2 separate regions of the Homo sapiens genome follow, and region 1 is linked to region 2. The links come from fine-mapping of genetic effects on gene expression. A gene starts in region 2. The other region holds a variant in brackets. All regions are shown on one strand. Distances are from middle to middle.

Evidence for each region.
Region 1: its variant is fine-mapped to the expression of PDE4D in monocytes (TOPMed, PIP 0.92).

Annotation. Positions count from the first base shown.
Region 1 is chr5:60,242,425-60,254,149 of GRCh38, reverse strand. It overlaps a transcript of PDE4D not described here. Among named protein-coding and RNA genes, the nearest start is that of PART1, 240 kb to the left of the region's middle. The variant A/G (reference allele first, on the strand shown) is at 5,324.
Region 2 is chr5:59,890,588-59,898,587 of GRCh38, reverse strand. PDE4D (phosphodiesterase 4D) reads left to right here and starts at 4,862. Exons shown (of 15, transcript NM_001104631.2): 1 at 4,862-5,420. The coding sequence starts at 4,966.

The DNA of each region.
Region 1 (11,725 bases), 350 kb before region 2:
AATGCCTCTCCTTTGAGAAACATCAGTGTCTTCACTTTGACAGTGCTACATTATCTTTTGGTTATCATCCCTAGCTAAAAATAATTTTAGAAGGGCATAGAAAGAAGAGGTATATCTAAGATACTCTCTTCTAAGTACCAAGGTTGATTGATGATTCTTTTCAGAAACAAGAAACTTTCTTAAAGTATAATATGTTGATGGCTTTGTTGAGTTAGCAATTTATCACACCACATAGTTCTGTGGGTAATTTATCATTGAATCAGGTTCCCTTTACTCTGTCCCAATATTATAGGTTAATCTGGGACATGTAGTTTCTGAAATACCGACAGTCCCATTTTGAATTATTATTTTAGAAGCTGTGAAGACATTTAGCTCCTTTTGATTTCATACTCTTGACTTTAGTACTCATTGTAGACATGAGAAGTATGTGGCATTGTGTGAGCATCTGTAAAGATTGTAAATGATATTAATTAAGTTGGCTGTGCTTTTTCTCCTCACAATGGATTCTTTTGTTAGGCTGGTAATAATCGCGTTTTTGGTAAAAACACCTCATGGAATTTTTTTCCTTTCTCATAAAATAGCTGTTTACTGTAAAATTGAGATAGCCTCTCAAGTCTGGAACACCTTTCAATTCATCAAAAAGGGACAACCTAATATTCCAAAGAAGACTCAATCCTTTTAACACACATACATTTTAGGGCCAGTCAAGAGAAGTGGCCTGTTCTGTAGGAAAACATTTCTTGGCACATTATTATTTTAAGTGATTGCAGGAGACCACAGAGGGAGAGAAAAGAGACAACAACAACTTCTAGCATGCCTGGGGGATGACTTGCTCTTTCATATTTGTGGAACCCTATGTCAAGAGAGAAAACATCTAAAAATAAAAACGCATTTACTCAGATTCTCTAGGGCAAGGTGCAAAGAGCCTGTGCTGTAGGAGCTCAGATCAAAAATTAAATGGTTGAAACCTGCAGAGCAACTGCCGTCAGCAGAACCGTGGGCTCCTTCTGGTTGATTTTGTGCCATTCAGTTAGTTTCCATAAATTGGCCTTGGGTACTGATGTTCTTTGGTCTTTTTTGTGCTGTCCATAACTAATAGTGACCGTTGCTGGTAAATTGTTTCTTCAGTCCAGTGATTATTGGCCTTTCAAAGCATTGACTTCCTCCACCAATGTATACAGTCACCAAATGGGATCTGGTTTGTTCAACATTCTAGTCAAGTTCCAAGTGGTAGGAATCAAAATTCCACTCTAGTTTATGTGTATTATTCCTATAGCTCTTCCCTCGAGATGTGGCATGGGATGGAAAATGGAGCCTATGTGTGGTATAGGCACTACTTAAAATTTATCAATAGAGAGGGATCCATGAGGAGGAGGAAACAAGCCAAAGAGATTGGGCAGGCTAATTTTCTTCTAGACAGTTCCTGCTCTCTTGGATTTTACTCCAATTCCCCACTCTTTCCATAGGAGTAAAAGTCTTAAAACTTGAACTAATGTTGAATTTTAATCCTGAATGGTGTAGCATCCTTCATTTCTATCCGTCTCATTATCAGCCCATACCCCTGCCATTGCCACTACCATATTTTCAAATGTCTTTCAACTCTCCAAAACCTACTGACCCTAGTTTATCATGCATTTGAAAGGCTCCCCACTTTTTGTAGAACTTCAGGTATTTTAAAACATATTTAGAAAGACTCTAAATAAACTGGAGTGAGTCTATAGCTAATGTTTGACCAAAAAAAAAAAAAAAAGTAAAAAAGTGTGCTGTGAAATTTTGAATATTAATTGTGCCAATTGGAATGGCATTTTTAAAAAGAAACTATTTCATCCATAAATGATAAATATATATTTCTTTGTTTAAAAAGTACATTAATGCAAAATTCTCCACCCCCATGTATTTTTAGCTTACATATCCATCTAACCTAAATACAGTCATGCATCACTTAATGAGAGGCATACAATCTGAGAAATATATCATTAGGCAATTTTGTCATTGTGCAAACATTGTAGAGTGTACTTAGATACACCTGGGTGGTATAGCTTAGTATACACCTAGGTTATATGGTATATTCTATTGCTCCTAGACTACAAACCTGTACAGCTTGCTACTGCACTGAACACTGTGGGCAATTGTAACACAATGGCAAGCATTTTTGTATCTAAGCATATGTAAACACAGAAAAAGCACAGTAAAAATACAAAATAAAAGAGGAAAAAAAGTGACCTCTGTATAGGACACTTACCATGAATGAAGCTTGCAGGAGTAGAAGCTGCTCTGAGTGAGTGAGTGGTGAATGAATATAAAGGCCCAGAACATTACTATACACTACTATAGACTTTATAAACACTGTACACTTAACGGTACACTAAATTTACAAAAATATCTTTTTTACCATTCGGCCCAGCAATCCTATTACTGAGTATATACCCAAAGGAATATAAATCATTCTATTATATCATAAAGACACAGGTAGTCATATGTTCATTGTAGCACTATTCATAATAGCAAAGATATGGAATCAACCTAAATGCCCATCGATAATAGTAGATTGGATAAATAAAAAGTGGTACATATACACCATGGAATACTATGCAGCCATACAAAAGAATGAGATCATGTCCTTTGCGGGAATATAGATGGAGCTGGAAGCCATTATCCTTAACAAACTAATGCAGAAACGGAAAACCAAATACTGCATGTTCTCACTTACAAGTGGGAGCTAAATGATGAGAACACATGGACTCATAGAGGAGAACAACAAACACTGGGGCCGACTAGAAGATGGACAGTGGGAAGGGGGAGAGGATCAGGAAAATAACCAGCAGGTACCAGGCTTAATGCCTGGTGATGAAATAATCTGTACACCAAACCCCCATGACATGAGTCTACTTATATAACAAACCTGCACATGTACCCCTAAACTTAAAAGTTAAGAAAATTTCTTTCTTCAATAAAAAATTAATAGCTAATTTTTATCTTTAACAATTTTGACTCCTGTAATAACACTACTTAAAACGTAAAGCACCATATAGCTGTACAAAAATATTTCCTTTCTCTTTCCTTTCTCTGTATCCTTATTATATAAGCTTCTTATTAAAAAATGTCTAGTTATCTCTTTTATTTTTTGAACTTTTTTCTTAACAACTAAGATACAAATACACATATTAGTCTAGGCCTACATAGAGTCAGTATCAACAATATCACTGTCTTTCACCTTCATACCCTGTCTTACTGAAGATTTTCAGGGGCAATAACATGCAAGGAGCTGCCATCGTCTCTGATGACCATGCCTTCTTATGGAATACCTCTTGATATGCCTACCTGAGGCTGTTTTACAGTTAACTATTTTTTTAATAAGTAGAAGGACCACACTCTAAAGTAATGATAAAAAGTATAGTAAACACATAAATTAGTAACCATTATTTGTTATTGTTATCATGTATTATGTAGTACACATAATTGTGTGTGCTCTAATTTATATGAATGACAGCACAGTAGGTTTTTTATGCCAACATTGCTACAAACATATAAGTACTGCTTTCCATTATGACATTACTATGCCTATGGTATATTAATAACTAGGCTATAGGAATTTTTCAGCTTCGTTATAATCTAATGGGACCACTGTAGTATGTGGTCCATTGTTGACCTAAATGTCATTATATGGCACATGATTATACTTGAAAATAATCAAAGTTATCAGATAGAGAAGGCTTAGGGATGCAGAACCATCTTTACAAGTTTTTGCTGCTTTGAGACAAATCCAACCCCGACTATTACCAGCTTAGAGACACCTCCTAGCTGCCTCTAGAGATGTATATCATCTTTGATCAGGGACTGGGGACCTAAAACAGGAACAATAGCATAGCATGCTTTTATGTGCAATGAATTTTCAAATATTAAAAAAAACCTTCAATATTGTTGTTATATTATCTGCACAGTATTAGGAAAAATGAGTAATAACTTATAAGTGAAAAAATACCTATGCTGCAAAAAACTCTTTTAATGTTGACTCCAGTTTCAGCAGAATAAATTTGTCTGATGATAGCCCCAGTGTCTACAGAAAATATACATTTTCTATTACTGGGGTTACAGTGTATGTAGAAGCACTGTGAGAAACCTTGACATTTTGGCAGAAAAGGATTTTTAACAATAAAATTCAAGAAAAGGTCATATTAGTAGAAATTTTGGTAGTCATTTTAAATGTCTCCCACATTATATGGCATCATAAATGCATTTAATATCAGATTGAATTATGGCTGTAATCTTTAGCCTTAGTAGTCTGAACATCATTTCATACCTAGCTTAATATCCTGGAATGTTATGTGTGGTTTCTGCTTTATTTAAAATAGAGGAGTGACAAGGGTGATGAATACATTTTATTTCTGTTTTCTCATCCCATTTTCTATTGCAAATGAATTTTTTTTCAGAAGTAGGTATGCCTACCTGTATCTTTGCAAAATGCATTTTCAGAAAATAGGTTTGGAATATTCATTTAAATCCTATTTCTTGTGACCCAATGTAAACTCACTGCTGTTAAATCTAAAGTGTGTGAGTTCTTACAGCTGAGCAGTAATTCTACTGACATTTTAATGTCATGTCCTCTCCTTAGCAGCCTGTTTGCATATTGCATGCAGGCTACATGTTAGGATTTTTTAAAACATGAGGTGTCTTGGAAAATGATTTTGACACAACTTGTCCTCTTGGACCAACTGTATTTTATAAACATTTTAATGCTTTACTCTTGAATGATCCATTTCACTAAGAGTCAGAAAACTGAGTTTCTGTCATGCCATGGTGACATGATGCTGACATTGCTGAGCTAGTTACTTATTCCTTTTACCTAAATGTTTAATAGAACACACCCAGCCCTGTGTGGGCATGAGAGGGAAATGGGCCCAGAAGTTGCAGTGGTTGCATTCACAAGCCATTAAGCTGTGGTCAGTTTCTCCCTAAAGCATTGTACCTCCCTTAGACAACTTCCTCTTTGGGGAGTTGCAATATCTAGAAACTTCAGAGGAAGGGGTCCAGCTGCAGGGATATGGTTAAAAGTTTTTTCAGAGGAGCCACTTTGCATGGCAGTGGGCCATTTCCTGCTATCACTCAGGCCCAGCCTACCCACAAGTTACAGTCTTTGGCAAGAAACAGAAGGAAACAGTGGTGGCTCTTGGAGCCACATGCTCAATTTTTGATGGTGCTCTTTGCGCAGTGAATGCCAGCTGCTCCTCAATCAGGTATGCTGCTGTTGTTCTGAGAGTGATTAGGAACAAAAGGGATGATGCAGATGTGTCAGGCTATGGGAAGTGCAAATGTATATTTTTGG[A/G]GCACTGAATGTAAAGAGATTTAGAAGTTTCCTGTTGGAAAGCAGGCTATCGAAGCAGGCAGGCAAAATGATTTTGACACCAATACCAACCAAGGGCAAGAAGTGGAAGCTTGGAAATATACTTGTTTGGGAATAAGAAATTGATAAGACAAATATACTTTTTAAAAAGAAAGATAAGAGAGGTCATGAAAGAATTGTGAAGGTCCAGTCTGTCCTATTTCCTTTGCTACCACCTGAGTCTGTTACCATGGTCTCACTCTTGCATGAAAGCAGTCATCTCCTACCTAAGCCCCTTCTGTTCATCTTGCTCCTTGGAGGCTGGCCTCCACATCCTTGAAAATACAAGTCTGATTTTGCCTCTCCTCTGCCCAAACCTGCCAACAGCTTCCCAACTCATGAGGAGTGAGATCAAATGTCTTGCCATGGCTGACATGGCATTCTTGGGCCTGGCCCTGACCTTCTCTGTCCTTATCTTGCACCACTCTTACTGTCACTCGCTCCCTTCAGGTCCCTCTGTTTCCTTGCTGCTCTTTTATATGCCATCCCTCCTCAGGGCCTTTCCACCTTCATTTCTGATTAGAATATTCTTCCCCCAGATATCCGTATTACACACTTTCTCACTCCATTATCATCTGTTCAAATAGCACTTAAAAAGAGAGGTTCTGTGGCCATGCTATCTAAAATAGCACACTCACATGCACCCATGACTTTCTCTCCACTTACCCTATCTTCTTCACAGCACGTAGCACCACCTGTCATATTCTATCAAGTTGAACCATATGAAATTGCTTTTGGGTGGATCAAGAACAGCTGAATATTGGCCATTTCATTTGGTTCAAACTAAAATATATTTATTAATTTGTTTATTATTTGTATTTCTTCTATACTATGATTGAAACCCTGTGGGTCAAAGGTTTTGTTTTGTTTTTGGCAACATCTCCAATGTCTAGAGCACAGCAGGAACTTAGACAAGTTGTATTGAATTAATGGAAAGGAAGAAGAAAAGCCATATAACTTGTTGACAGTAAGCAGTGAACACTTATATGAAAAATGATCTCTCTCCCTTTCTCTGTCTCTGTCTTGTGTGTGTGTGTGAGAGAGAGGGAGAGGAGAGAGAGGAAGCACTAGAGGACTCTAGAAAAAGGTGATGGGATGGGCTTCAGAGGGAATCCAGAAAATTAAAGGATTTATTTGGATCCATGTAAAGTTCAGTGTAATGTTTCTAGTTGTAGCTAGGGGCTATGTATGCACCTATAATTATTATATATTTTTTTCCATGTGGTTTTCTGAAACTGGGACCAAGTGGGATCAAACAAGCTTTGGATAATATAATTGTGAACTGAAAAAGTTTCATAATTGGTAAATTACAAGGATTCAGCTTGCCAATTGTGCTGTAAGTTGATTTTTACTAGAGAAAATAAGTTACTTTTTACTAACAGTTCTAGAAACATGGCTAATAATCTTACTATCATCCCTGCTACGGATGCTTAGAAATACTGCATGTCTAATCTTGAAAGGAAATAAAATCATTACTATGGGTCAGAAGTAAAGGTTGAATTGAAAACTCCAGGGATAAACACTTGAATTGATACTGTGGCTGCCTTTGGGACAGTATTATTAGTCTCACTAACAAAGGGCTTGAGATATGAAATGGAAAATTGAGGTTCTGTGGGTTGGAACAGAGATCTTCAGTACAAAGTTGTGACCTTGGAATGGAAAGGACTGAAAAAAAATCATCAGAACAGAAGAGACAAGGAAGCTGTGTCTTAGAAAAAGAATGTCTCCTTCAAAAACACATCTCTATGGATTTGTACCTCATTTAGGTTTGGGAATTGAATTTGTACTACTTGTGTAGTATGGAAAAATCACAACTTGAAAAATTAACTACAGAGAGCCCAGATTACTGATACTTCTAAAGCACCTGGCAGAATCTGTTACAAACTTCTTAGGAGAAAGATACCATTCAACCAAGTTTCACAAGATTCCTAAACATAAATATCTTCTAAAGATTAACTCACAACCTCAAACTATAAAACATAAGAACAAAATCCCCCACAAGTGAGAGTTAGCAAACACAAAGAGCAGGATTAGAATAAGACCTAAAAGTGATGGAACTATCACATAGACTATGAAAAATGAATATTGAAAATGATAGAGACATAAATGAATTATAAATATAAGAAAAAATAAGGTTAAAAAAAGAACACACTTTATAAAGGTGAAAACTAAAGTAATTGAAATTAATAATTTATCATAGGTTAAACAAATTAGATATAGCTGGAGAGAAAATTAGTAGACTGTAATATAATTTGAAGAAATCAACCAGAAGGCACTGAAAAGAAAATGATAGAAGATATGAAAAAGAAGTTAAGAGACATGTTGGAGAGCATAAGATTCAATATATGTTTCATAGGCCTTCTAGAAGGAGAGCACAGGAAGATTTGGGAAGAGGCAGTATCTGACTATAATGCAATTAAATTAATAATTTAAATTAAAAGACAACAAAAAGAATCCCACATGGATTTGAAATTAAATCAACACACGTCTAAACAACTCATGAGTCAAGCAAAAAAATAATGAAAATTAGAAAATATTTAAAACTGAATGTTAATATTAATTAAATTCATCCATTAAATATTGTATGAGAAGCAATGAAAGTTATAGTTAGAAAGTTATAGCTTTAAATGCCTATATAAGAAAATGAAAAAAGGTACAAATTAAAAAAAATTAACTTTTAATTTTTTTGGCTACATAGTAGATGTATATATTTATGGGGTACATGAGATATTTTGTACAGGCATGGGGTACAGGCATGCAATGTATCATAATCACATGGGGTGTAAATGGGGTGTCTGTCACCTCAAGCATTTATTTTTTGTGTTACAAACAATCCAATTATACTCTTTTAGTTATTTAAAACTGTACAATTGAATTATTTTTGACTATAGTCACCCTGTTGGGCTAGCAAACCTTAGGTCTTATTCATTCTTTCTATTTTTTTTGTACTCATTAACCATCCCCACTTCCCTCCCTCCTCCACTACCCTTACAAGCCTATGGTAACCATCCCTTTACCATCTATCTCCATGAGTTCAATTGTTTTAATTTTTAGCTCCCACAAATAAGTGAAAACATGCAAAGTTTGTCTTTCTGTGTCTGGCTTATTTAACTTAACACAATGACCTCTAGTTCCATCCACACTGTTGTAAATAACAGAATCTCATTCTTTTTAATGGTTTAATAATACTCCATTTTGTATATGTAACCCGTTTTCTTTATCCATTAATCTGCTAATGGATTGCTACCAATTCCTGGCTATTGTGACTAGTGCTACAATAAACACGGGAGTGTAGATATCTCTTTGATATACTGATTTCCTTTCTTTTGGGTATATACCTAGGAGTGGGATTGCTGGGTCATATGGTAGTGCTATTTTTAATTTTTTGAGGAACCTCCAAACTGTTCTCCACAGTGGTTGTACTAATTTACATTCCCACCAACAGCATACAAGGGTTCCATTTTCTTCACATCCTCGCCAGCATTTGTTGTTGCCTGTCTTTTGGATAAAAGCCATTTTAATGAGAGTGAGATGATATCTCATTGTAGTTTTGATATGCATTTCTCAATGATGTTGAGCACCTTTTCATATATCTGTTTTCCATTTGTATGTCTTCTTTTGAGAATTTTTTACTCAACTCTTTCACCCATTTTTAAATTAGATTATTAGATTTAATAGTGTTGTTTGTGCTCCTTATATGTTCTGGTTATTAATCCCTTATCAGATGGATAGTTTGCAAATATTTTCTCCCATTCTGTGGGTTTTCTCTTTGCTTTGTTGACTGTTTCCTTTACTGTGCAGAAGCTTTTTAACTTGATGTGATCTCATTTGTCCACTTCTGTTTTGGTTGCCTGTGCTTGTGGAGCATTACTCAAGAAATTTTTGCCCAGTCCAGTGTCCTGGAGAGTTTCCCCAATGTTTTCTTTCAGTAGTTTCATAGTTTGAGGTCTTAGATTTAAGTCTTTCATCCATTTTGGTTTTGTATATGGTGAGAGATAGGGATTGGGTTTCACTCTTTTGCATATGGATATCCAGTTTTTCCAGCACCATTTATAGAAGAAATCATCCTTTCCCTAATGTATGTTCTTGGCATTGTTGTTGAAAATGAGTTCCCTGTAGATGTACGGATTTATTTCTAGGTTCTGTATTCTATTCCACTGGTCTATGTGTCTGCCTTTATGCCAATACCATGCTGTTTTTGTTACTATAGCTCTATAGTATAATTTGGAAGTCAGGTAATGTGATTCCTCCAGTTTTGTTCCTTTTGATTAGGATAGATTTGGCTATTCTGGGCATTTTGTGATTCCATATAAATTTTAGGATTTTTTTTCTATTTCTGTAAAGAATGTCATCAGTATTTTGATAGGGAGTGCATTGAATCTGTAGATTGCTTTGGATAGTATGGACATTTTAACAATATTCATTCTTCCAGTCCATGAACATGGGATATCGTTCCATCTTTTTGTGTCCTCTTCAATTTCTTGCACCAGTGTTTTATAGTTTTCATTGTAGAAATCTTTCACTTTTTTGGTTAATTTCTAGGTATTTTATTTAATTTGTAGCTATCATAAATGGTACTACTTTCTTGATTTCTTTTTCAGATTGTTCACTCTTGGCATTTAGAAATGCTACTAATTTTTCTATATTGATTTTGTATCCTGTAAATTTACTGAATTTGCTTACCAGTTCTAATATTTTTTTGAGAGAGTCTTTAGGTTTTTCCAAATATGAGATCATATCATCTGCAAACAAGGGTAATTTGACTCCTTCCTTTCTAATTCGGATACCCTGTGTTTTTTTCTCTTGTCTTACTGATCTAGCTAGGACTTTCAGTACCATGCTGAGTAACAGTGGTAAAAATGGGCTTCCTTATCATGTTCCTGATCTTAGAGAAAAGGCTTTCAGTGTTTCTTCCTTTAGTGTGATACTAGGTATATGTCTTTTGTATATGGCTTTATTGTGTTGAGGTATGTTCCTTCTATACATAGGTTTTTGAGGATTTTTACCATAAAGGGATGTGAAATTTTATCAAATGCTTTTTCAGCATCAATTGAAATGGTTTTTGTTCTTCATTCTGTTGATATGATCTATCACATTGATTGAGTTGCACATGTTGAACTATCCTTGCTTCCCTGGGATAAACCCCACTTGGTCATGAGGAATTATATTTTTAATGTGTTGTTGAATTTGGTTTGTTAGTATTTTGTTGAGGATTTTTGTATCAATATTCATCAGTGATATTGGCCTGCAGTTTTCTTTTCTTGATGTGTCTTTGTCTGGTTTTGGTATCAGGGTAATACTGGCATCGTAGAATGAGTTTGGAAGTATTTCCTCCTCTATTTTTCAAAATAGTAACATTGTTATTAGTTCTTCTTTAAATGCCTGGTAGAATTCAGCAGTGAAGCCATCAGGTACACAGCCTTTCTTTACTGCGAGATTTCTTTATTATAGTTTTGATCTTGTTGCTTATTATTGGTCTGTTCAGGGTTTGGATTTGTTCCTGGTTCAGCCATTGTAGGTTGTATGTGTCTAGGAATTTGTTCATTTATTCCAGATTTTTTAATTTACTGGGATTTAGTTGCTCATAGTAGCCACTAACGATCCTTTGAATTTCTACAGTCTCAGTTGTAATGTCTCCCTTTTCATCTCTATTTTATTTATTTGTGTCTTCTCTCTTTTTTCTTAATCTGGCTAAAGGTTAATCTATTTTGTCTTTTCAAGAAGCAAACTTTTTAATGGATCTTTTGTATTTTCCTTGTTTCAATTTCATTTATTTCTGCTCTGAACTTTATTATTTTTTCTTCTACTAGTTTTGGGTTTGGTTTGCTCTTGCTTTCCTTTCCTAGTTCTTTAAGACACACTATTGGGTTTTTTTATTTGAAGTTTTAATTCTTTTTTGATGTGGGCACTTAAAACTATAAGTTTCCCTTTTAGTACTGCTTTTGCTGTATCCCATAGGTTTTGGTATGTTGTGTTTCCATTATCATTTGTTTCAAGAAATTTTATAATTTCCCTCTTAATTTCTTCATGACCCGTTGGTCATTCAGGAGCATATTGTTTAATTTCTATGTGTCTGTTTAGTTTCCAAAATTCCTCTTGTTTTAATTTCTAGTTTTCTTCCATTGTGGTTGGAGGAGATAGTTGATATTATTTCAAATTTTTTGAATGTTTTAAAACTTGTTTTGTGACCTAACATGTGGTCTGTCCTTGAGAATGATCCATGTGCTGAGGAAAAGAATGTGTATTCTGTGTATTCTGCAGCCATTGGATGAAATGTCCTGTAAATATCTATCGGGATCATTTGGTCTATAGTGCATATTAAGTCTGATGTTTCTTTGTTGATTT
Region 2 (8,000 bases):
CATGGTCACACATATGTATTCACACATACTGAAAATAGCTAATTTCAATGTGTACTTGAGGTCTTGGCCTCAGATTAGATGCCACTCTCCCTTTGGTGAGGACTCACTGAGCTGTAAGGGTTGAATGTTCTTCCAGCAGACACTACATATCCGCATCAGTATATCTCTTCCCCCCATCTTCCCAAATTATAGTTGCTTATTTATTTATTTCCTCTGCAAGACACAAAACTCCTTGAGGATAGTAATTTTTTGTGCATGTTTGTCAATGCAGTATCACAGTCGTCCTGAGAATTAGCACACAGTAGATAAGCAATATTTTTACCTTGAGCTGACAAGTGGAATGGTATCATTAGAAAGTTACAAAATTGATTTTGTGATACTGAGCCTCCAACTAGTTGGAAATTAGTGTGCTGCTAAATTTGCATTAGTGTGCTAGTCAAAGACAAGGATATTCAAGTACAGCATTTCTTAGTTTCATATTAATTGCATATTTCTGTTTATTTCATATTAGACAAAAATTACTGAAAAGCAGCCTAATATACTGCGTTGGAAACAATATGATAGAGACTTTAATACTAGTACTTGTACTGGCAATACTGACAATATTATCTTGTATATGTATAGGTTTTTACAAATTTAAAAGCCTTTCATATATCTCAAGGAAATATCCTAAGAACCTGTTTCTACTCAACATTAAAGACCTAAGTGAAATCTGAGACTTTCAATGCCTTTGGATATGTAATTAGACAGGAGTTTAGCCTTTTGTAACACATATGATGATGAAAATTTCCGATTTTAAGCTGACTGTTGGGCATCAAGATGACCATCTTTACAAATGAAGTAGCACTCATGTGCTCAAGTATACATAGAATGTATGCAAAGTGAAAGTCTCCTTTAAATCTTCCTCCCATTGACTTGAGCAACGAGAACACGTGGACACAGGGAGGGGAACATTACACACTGGGGCCTGTCGGGGGGTGGGATGCTGGAGGAGGGATAGCATTAGGAGAAATACCTAATGTAAATGACAAGTTAATGGGTGCAGCAAACCAACATGGTACATGTATACCTATGTAACAAACCTGCACATTGAGCACATGGACCCCATAACTTAAAGTATAATAAAAAAAGTAAAAAAAAAAATCCTCCTCCCATTGCCAAGATAGAAATGGACCCTTAGTTACTGCCACTTGCCATCTCACTCTGTGTTCTGGATAGAAATGGTGCTTGCTCTCTGCTAGCTGTTAATTGACATCACTTCTGCCAGAACTCTCCATCATTATTGACAAGAATGTTCTCCCTTGTTAATTGCCCAGCAGCACATTGAGTGATTGATTGTATCTTTTGGACAGATTTGAAATGCATTTGCAGAAAAGGGTGGGGGTGGTAATGACATAATGCATGGTAATGACACCAACTAACTGCTTATTTAAGTTTGTTCAGGAAAAAGATACTGATCATTTACCTGATTTTTACTTTTTATATAGATGTGCTAATGGTAAGTAGTGATAGCTTTCCAGGATGTCCCACATTAACCCAATGCTTCACAAAAATCTCTCTCAGACTGTGCCCATAAAACTCCAAAATCTATGGTCAACTAGTGGGAAAAAGAATGGATAATTTATTTAACATATAAGCAGGGAAAACCAATGGGTAGATGGAATATTTTACATTTTTGTTGTTTTAATTAAAAGTAGGAAATACCTAGATTAATGAGAAGAGTTTTTAAATGGAAGGCTGGGAGTGCTCAATATTCAGCAGTATAAGATTTTCTTTTAGCATAGAGGCAACTAGAGTAATACATAAAGTGCATATTTTCATGAGAACTTTGCTTATAAGCTGGACTTCCCTAGAAGTATTTGAGACACAAGGGCGAGTCAACTAATAGTATCTACAGTGTTTTTGCAACCATTTAATGAGAGAGTAAGTCTGGATCAGTAGTTGCTGATGTATGAAATCACATGAAGAGTTTTTTAAAATGCCGATGCCTTGATCCTCCCCTAGAAATACTGATTTTATTTGTCTAGGCAGGGTAGTGATGATCAAACTTTACACTGAAGCAGCATCTTCTCACAAATTTGGTAAAAGTATAAAGCCTCAAGCCCTATCCTGCTTCATGGAGCCTGGGTCTTTGTGTGCTGGATTAGCTCTCCTGGTGATTCTGATAACATCAAAGTTTGGAATCACTGCTCTAGGTTCAACATCAGACATTTTTTTTCAAGCTCCCCCAGGTGATATTCCCTAGGTACAGCCAAGACTGGGAACTGCTGATTAACATGATATTTAGGATACTTCCCAGCCTGGCAGGAATAATAAAAATTGCTACCTTTATTAAACATTCATTGCATATAAGGCATTGTGCTAAGTATTATTTCATTAAATAATTGCAAAATTCTGTGAAGTAGGTAATATTAGTACTACTTTGCATATGGGAGACAGGGATGGTAAATAATTTAGCTAAAGTAACATGGGTAGGAAGTGGTAGATTGGAACTCAAGCTGTAACCTCAAAGATCACACAAGAAACTATTACTATCAATAACATTTTGGAATTATAAGTTAAATTAAAAACTCTACAAGTTGGAAACATATTAAATGATTTTCTTACATTTTAAAATGTTCCTGACTTGCAATTACATAGTAAAAACAAAACAAAGAATTTTTAAAAATCAGTGGGAAATATATAAAAGATAAAGTTTTCATGAGTAAAAAGGAAGGAGCAAATTGGTGGTGAAAATCAGGTTGGATTTGAATTATTCCAATTTAATCTGGAAAAAAATTATAAGTCACTTGTACTGTTAGTGTATGAGAAATTAGAATAAGAGTTTCGGATAGAGGTATTTTGCCACAGTTATATTGAGGCGAAAGGTGGCAAGCATTTCAGGGGAAAGAAGAAATTTGTGTACTTCTTTAAAATGGTTTTGGATGTTAATAATGCAATGAATTAAAAGAAAAAGGCAGTCTATACTGCAGAACACTTCCATTTCTCTCCTTTTGTGTTTGGGAAAATACTGGCTTAGTGCCCTCCTAGGCATGGTAAATACTTTGACCACTGCCACCAGTCACACTTGTGTCTGCAAAAGGGGCAAAAAGAGTGCCTTTGTAAAGTATGGTTTAATCCTACACAGTGGAGAGTGGTGCTTAGGAGATTGCCTTGTTTCTCTTAAGACACAACCTTTCTCAGATTTTGTGTATAGTCCACATATGAGCAGAGGGCTCATATTAAACTGATGGAGGAAAGGTATATTTCCAACCATAAATAAATAAATAGCATGAAGAGATGATGAAGGCCTTCTCCTGCCACTTGCACATTTCGTGGACTGTTCTTGCTGATAAACAAAGTGAGCACTTATTTTCATTGGCATTATTTTCCCAGTGGCATCTAGACTGTGTGGAGAGTGTTGAATTTTCAGCAGTCTAGAGAGTTTGAGACATGGTTCCTGATTCTGGTACTCTAGCATCCATTACATGATATGCTTGAAATGTACATATGAAAATATGTTAAGACTGAGTGTGTGGGAAGAATAGAATAATTACACAGCCAACAAGTTGTTGTGAGTCCTAAATATATTATCGTTCAAATAATGGATGGTACGTGGTAACTTCCACAAAGAAAAATTCTAGAATTATTTTAACAGTAAGCAAATTGCATTTCATCTTTAAGTAATATGGTCAAATAAAAAAGGTACAGGGAAAAAAGTGTCTATATATTGCCCTGAAATCCTCTTGGCTTCTTTAAAAAACATTTGACACTGCAGGAAAATGCTAATTAAAGGAAGACAAAAGTTGAATTTGGATTCTAGTGCCTCATAGGACTCTAATTTCTGTGAATATTGATACAACATGTTTTTAAAACACTTTAGTAATAGAGCTGTGTTCTGCTGGAAGTGGCAGAAAGGCAAATTGCAGGCAGGCACTGAAGATAGAGACTACCGAAGATAATCAGAGGTTTGTAATTGAAAAGGTGCCTTAACCTTAACTCTGGCCAGCGGGCTCAGCCATGGCTCTGCAACTAAGGACGACTCGCCTTGATTTCCAGCGAGGACCACTCCCGAGGCCAAGTTGGAGGAAGATCTTCAAGAGGAAACATTGGGCATTCTCCCTGCTGTGGGAAAGAGCCACACAATGTTTTATCCTATGTCAGGGAAAGAGACTGAATTAATCTTACTATTGGATCTTCACCCAGATCCAATTTTTCAGCGACGCGCATAGACAATATTCCAGGCAACTTTGCCTGGTCACATTCCTTATCTTTGGAAGCACCAGCATGGGGCTCATCGTCAACAAGCTCTGAGAACCAGCCAGGAATCGCCAAACTCCATTTCTCTAAGAGCACTGAGGCAAGCGGAGGTGAAGAGGAAGGCTCCGGGGCAGTGGGGAGCAGTGTGGAGGAGGGAGGCGCGGGCACGGCGAGGGGAAGGATCAAGAGGACAGGTCTGACTCCTGACTGGCTGGAGTGGTTTTGGTGAAAGTCACAGCTCGGGCGTGCCAGCCTGGAGCTGTCCAACTTTTCAGCAGCTCCGGGATCAGGGTTCCGGTGCCCTGGAGGCGGCTACCACTGCCGCCGCCGCCGTTGCTGCTGCTTCTGCAGCCCGAGTTGCTGACAATCCCTGCTCTCGCCGCCGGCGCCCAAAGGAAGGGAAGAAGAAAGGGAGGAAGAAGGACCAACCTCTGGCGAAACCGGGCACCGCGCACCCTAGTCTTGGTGACTTGGGGAGCCCGGGAGCGTGTCTCTGCCATAGCCTCGGTGGAAGGAGCCCTGCCGCGTTCTGTGACCCCTCCCGCTGGCAGGGCCCCCTCTCGGTAGCCCTGAGGCTCTGGCGCCTTCAAGTGAGAAGCTAAGCACCAGCCTCTGCTGGGCTGCAGAAGCGGCGGCGGCGGCAGCAGCAGCAGCAGCATCAGGAAGGCGCTCGGGCCAGCGCGGTGAACCCGGGCTGGGCAGCAGGTCGCGGAGCCGCGAGCCAGGATGGAGGCAGAGGGCAGCAGCGCGCCGGCCCGGGCGGGCAGCGGAGAGGGCAGCGACAGCGCCGGCGGGGCCACGCTCAAAGCCCCCAAGCATCTCTGGAGGCACGAGCAGCACCACCAGTACCCGCTCCGGCAGCCCCAGTTCCGCCTCCTGCATCCCCATCACCACCTGCCCCCGCCGCCGCCACCCTCGCCCCAGCCCCAGCCCCAGTGTCCGCTACAGCCGCCGCCGCCGCCCCCCCTGCCGCCGCCCCCGCCGCCGCCCGGGGCTGCCCGCGGCCGCTACGCCTCGAGCGGGGCCACCGGCCGCGTCCGGCATCGCGGCTACTCGGACACCGAGCGCTACCTGTACTGTCGCGCCATGGACCGCACCTCCTACGCGGTGGAGACCGGCCACCGGCCCGGCCTGAAGAAATCCAGGATGTCCTGGCCCTCCTCGTTCCAGGGACTCAGGCGGTGAGTGGAGAGCGCCCCCTCCCCCATTCAGGCAAAGGGTCACCTCCCCTTTTCTCAAATACTCCATCTAAGTCGGCTTATCACCACCAATTCTAGACCCAGGGTAAAATGCTAGTCTGGAAATTGGGGGAGGACAAACAGGGGTGTGCCTATCCTTTATTGAGAGTATGCTATTCAGGTGTGTGTAAGAGACCCCCCAAAAGTACTGCATAAATGTTAACTGGGGCCGTGTGTGTGTGTGTGTGTGTGTGTGTGTGTGTGTGTGTGTGTGGTGCGCGCGCTTCCCAGTTATCTGTGCCACGCACCAGCCCTCTCCCCACCCACTTCCATACCACCCTGGCTAGTGAGACTAAACAGGCAAAATCAGTTTGCTCTGGGTGGAGAAGAAGAGAAGGTGAAGGTTTTGCGGGATTTGACCAGCGAAAGCACCCAGCATCTGTCCACTCACCCTATTGGGAAGAGGGTCGGTGGGGCTGCTCTGACTGGGGAGGAGGGGGGAGTGAGAAAGCCTGGTCCCAGGATTGCAGCTAAAAGCCTAAGAACAACTCGCATTTCTCTTCGTCAGGTGGAGAAGTAAATTGAATAGCAAAAGGGGAGAACACGTGGGTGACTTGGAGAGTTTGGAGCAAAATGTTCAGCAATCCTTGAGAGAGACAAGGGGGTGAGGGAGGGAGAAGGAGCGAGGACGCTGTGGGAGTTACACTGTGTCGGTGTGTGCGAGCTTGTGTGTAGGGAGACCGTGTGTGTATCAGTCGTCCCTGCAAAATCCCAGGAAGAAAGCGCCTTGTTTTAGCAGCAGGCAAGACGTAGAGATTTGATTATAGTGATTTCCCCTTAACGTAAGTGCTCCGGAAGACAGGGCAGGGAAGCCGCCTATCAACCGGGAGTTTTAGTAGAAGTTGACCGCTGCTTCTCCAAGGAAATGAGTAAAGGACCAATTACAGCCATTCTGAGGAGTCAGCTCCAGATTCTTAACTCAGGCGTGGAGGTGGATGTGGGGCCCACGTTTGGTCCCTTTCCTGATAACCCAGGGACAGCTCCTTTCTTCCCTGTCCCAGGCCTTCCACGCCGTGAATCCCCTCCCCCACACAGGCACAGGAAAAAGATTTCAGGAGCTGCTGATCCTTGGCACATCTAATAGTAAAGTAGAGGGGTCGTCATCTAACCTTAGATGTGGACAGGCATCGATGTACTGCACCTCCAAGCCACAAGTCTGAACAATGGGCAGTTATAAATTGTAAATCAGGTCTGGGTGTGGAAACAGGAAAATCTAGGGCTGGGATTGTTTGTCCAACTCTGATTGACAGTAGGTTGGACTGATCAGAAAATCATAATGGTGTTCAAATGTGTGTTTGAGTTTTGTGTGTGTGTGTGTGTGTGAGCATGTCTCTCTGTTGTATACACTATGTACAAGGGAATCCAGCCAAACTATCATAACCCTGATGTGTACACATCATTTCAGCTTGCATATATGCTCTTAGCCCTTTGCCTGGCTCACACCCTTAGGTACCTTGTTGGAGATGTTCTTGTACCTGTTGGATGGGAAGAATAAGAATTGTAATTAATAACCTCAATTCAGATCAAAGACTGCAGACTTCCATAAATTAATATAAAAGTTTCATTTTTCAGCCAAGACTGCTAAGACCCTTTGTTTGAAGAGGTGGATGTCCTTCTCTCTCCCCTTTGGTTGAGCACGACACTATGTAGGACCCCAATGATAGAATGAAGGCAAGCCTGATACTTTGTATATTTGACCTATTAATAGAAAAATACCGTGTGATGATGAGCCCTTAATAAACATTAAATAAGAACAAGAGTTCTAGCTTGATCTGTGGGCTGATTGATTTTGTAGAGTTTCTTAATTGACTTCATTTTTTAATAAAATAGAATATGCCTGAGAGAGTGGAAGAAAGAAAAATAAGCTAATTGGAATAGAGGTATTGCATCATTGATTTGAATTTATTTTTTGCTATGCTTTCTACATTGATTAATTGTTCTATTTGAAATTTTTAGTTGAATGGTTCACAGGCAAACTAAGATGTATAATATTTATATGTAGCTGCCACTGTGGCTCACCTGATATATCATTGTCATTCTATTTAAGGATCCTTAGACTTAAAATTCTTTACAATACTTGCATATTCCCCACATGCTCACACATTGCATGTCATGTTTTTCCTTAATAGAGTTGCTTTTGCAAATAAATACATCTTTAAGGAGGACATGGATATTAGTTTCATTCTTTAAAGAGAACAGCAACAATACTTTTTTATTTTAAAGAGAACAGCAACAATGCTTTTAAATTATCAAAGAAATTTTACATTTATTAACTTATTTGAATCCTACAACAACACTGAGATGAGATGGTATTATCTCTATTTGATAGACAAGAATGCTGAGCCCCAGAAGATGCGAGCAATTTGTTCAGTATCACATAGACTGTGAGTGCTAGAGCTAAGACTGAAACCCAAGTCTCCTGCCTCATCAAAGGTGGTGAGCCCACCTTAAATAAATGTGTGCAGAACCTGGGCCTGTTGACAGCATCAAGAAATACATGAAACCAACGTGAAGTTTATATCG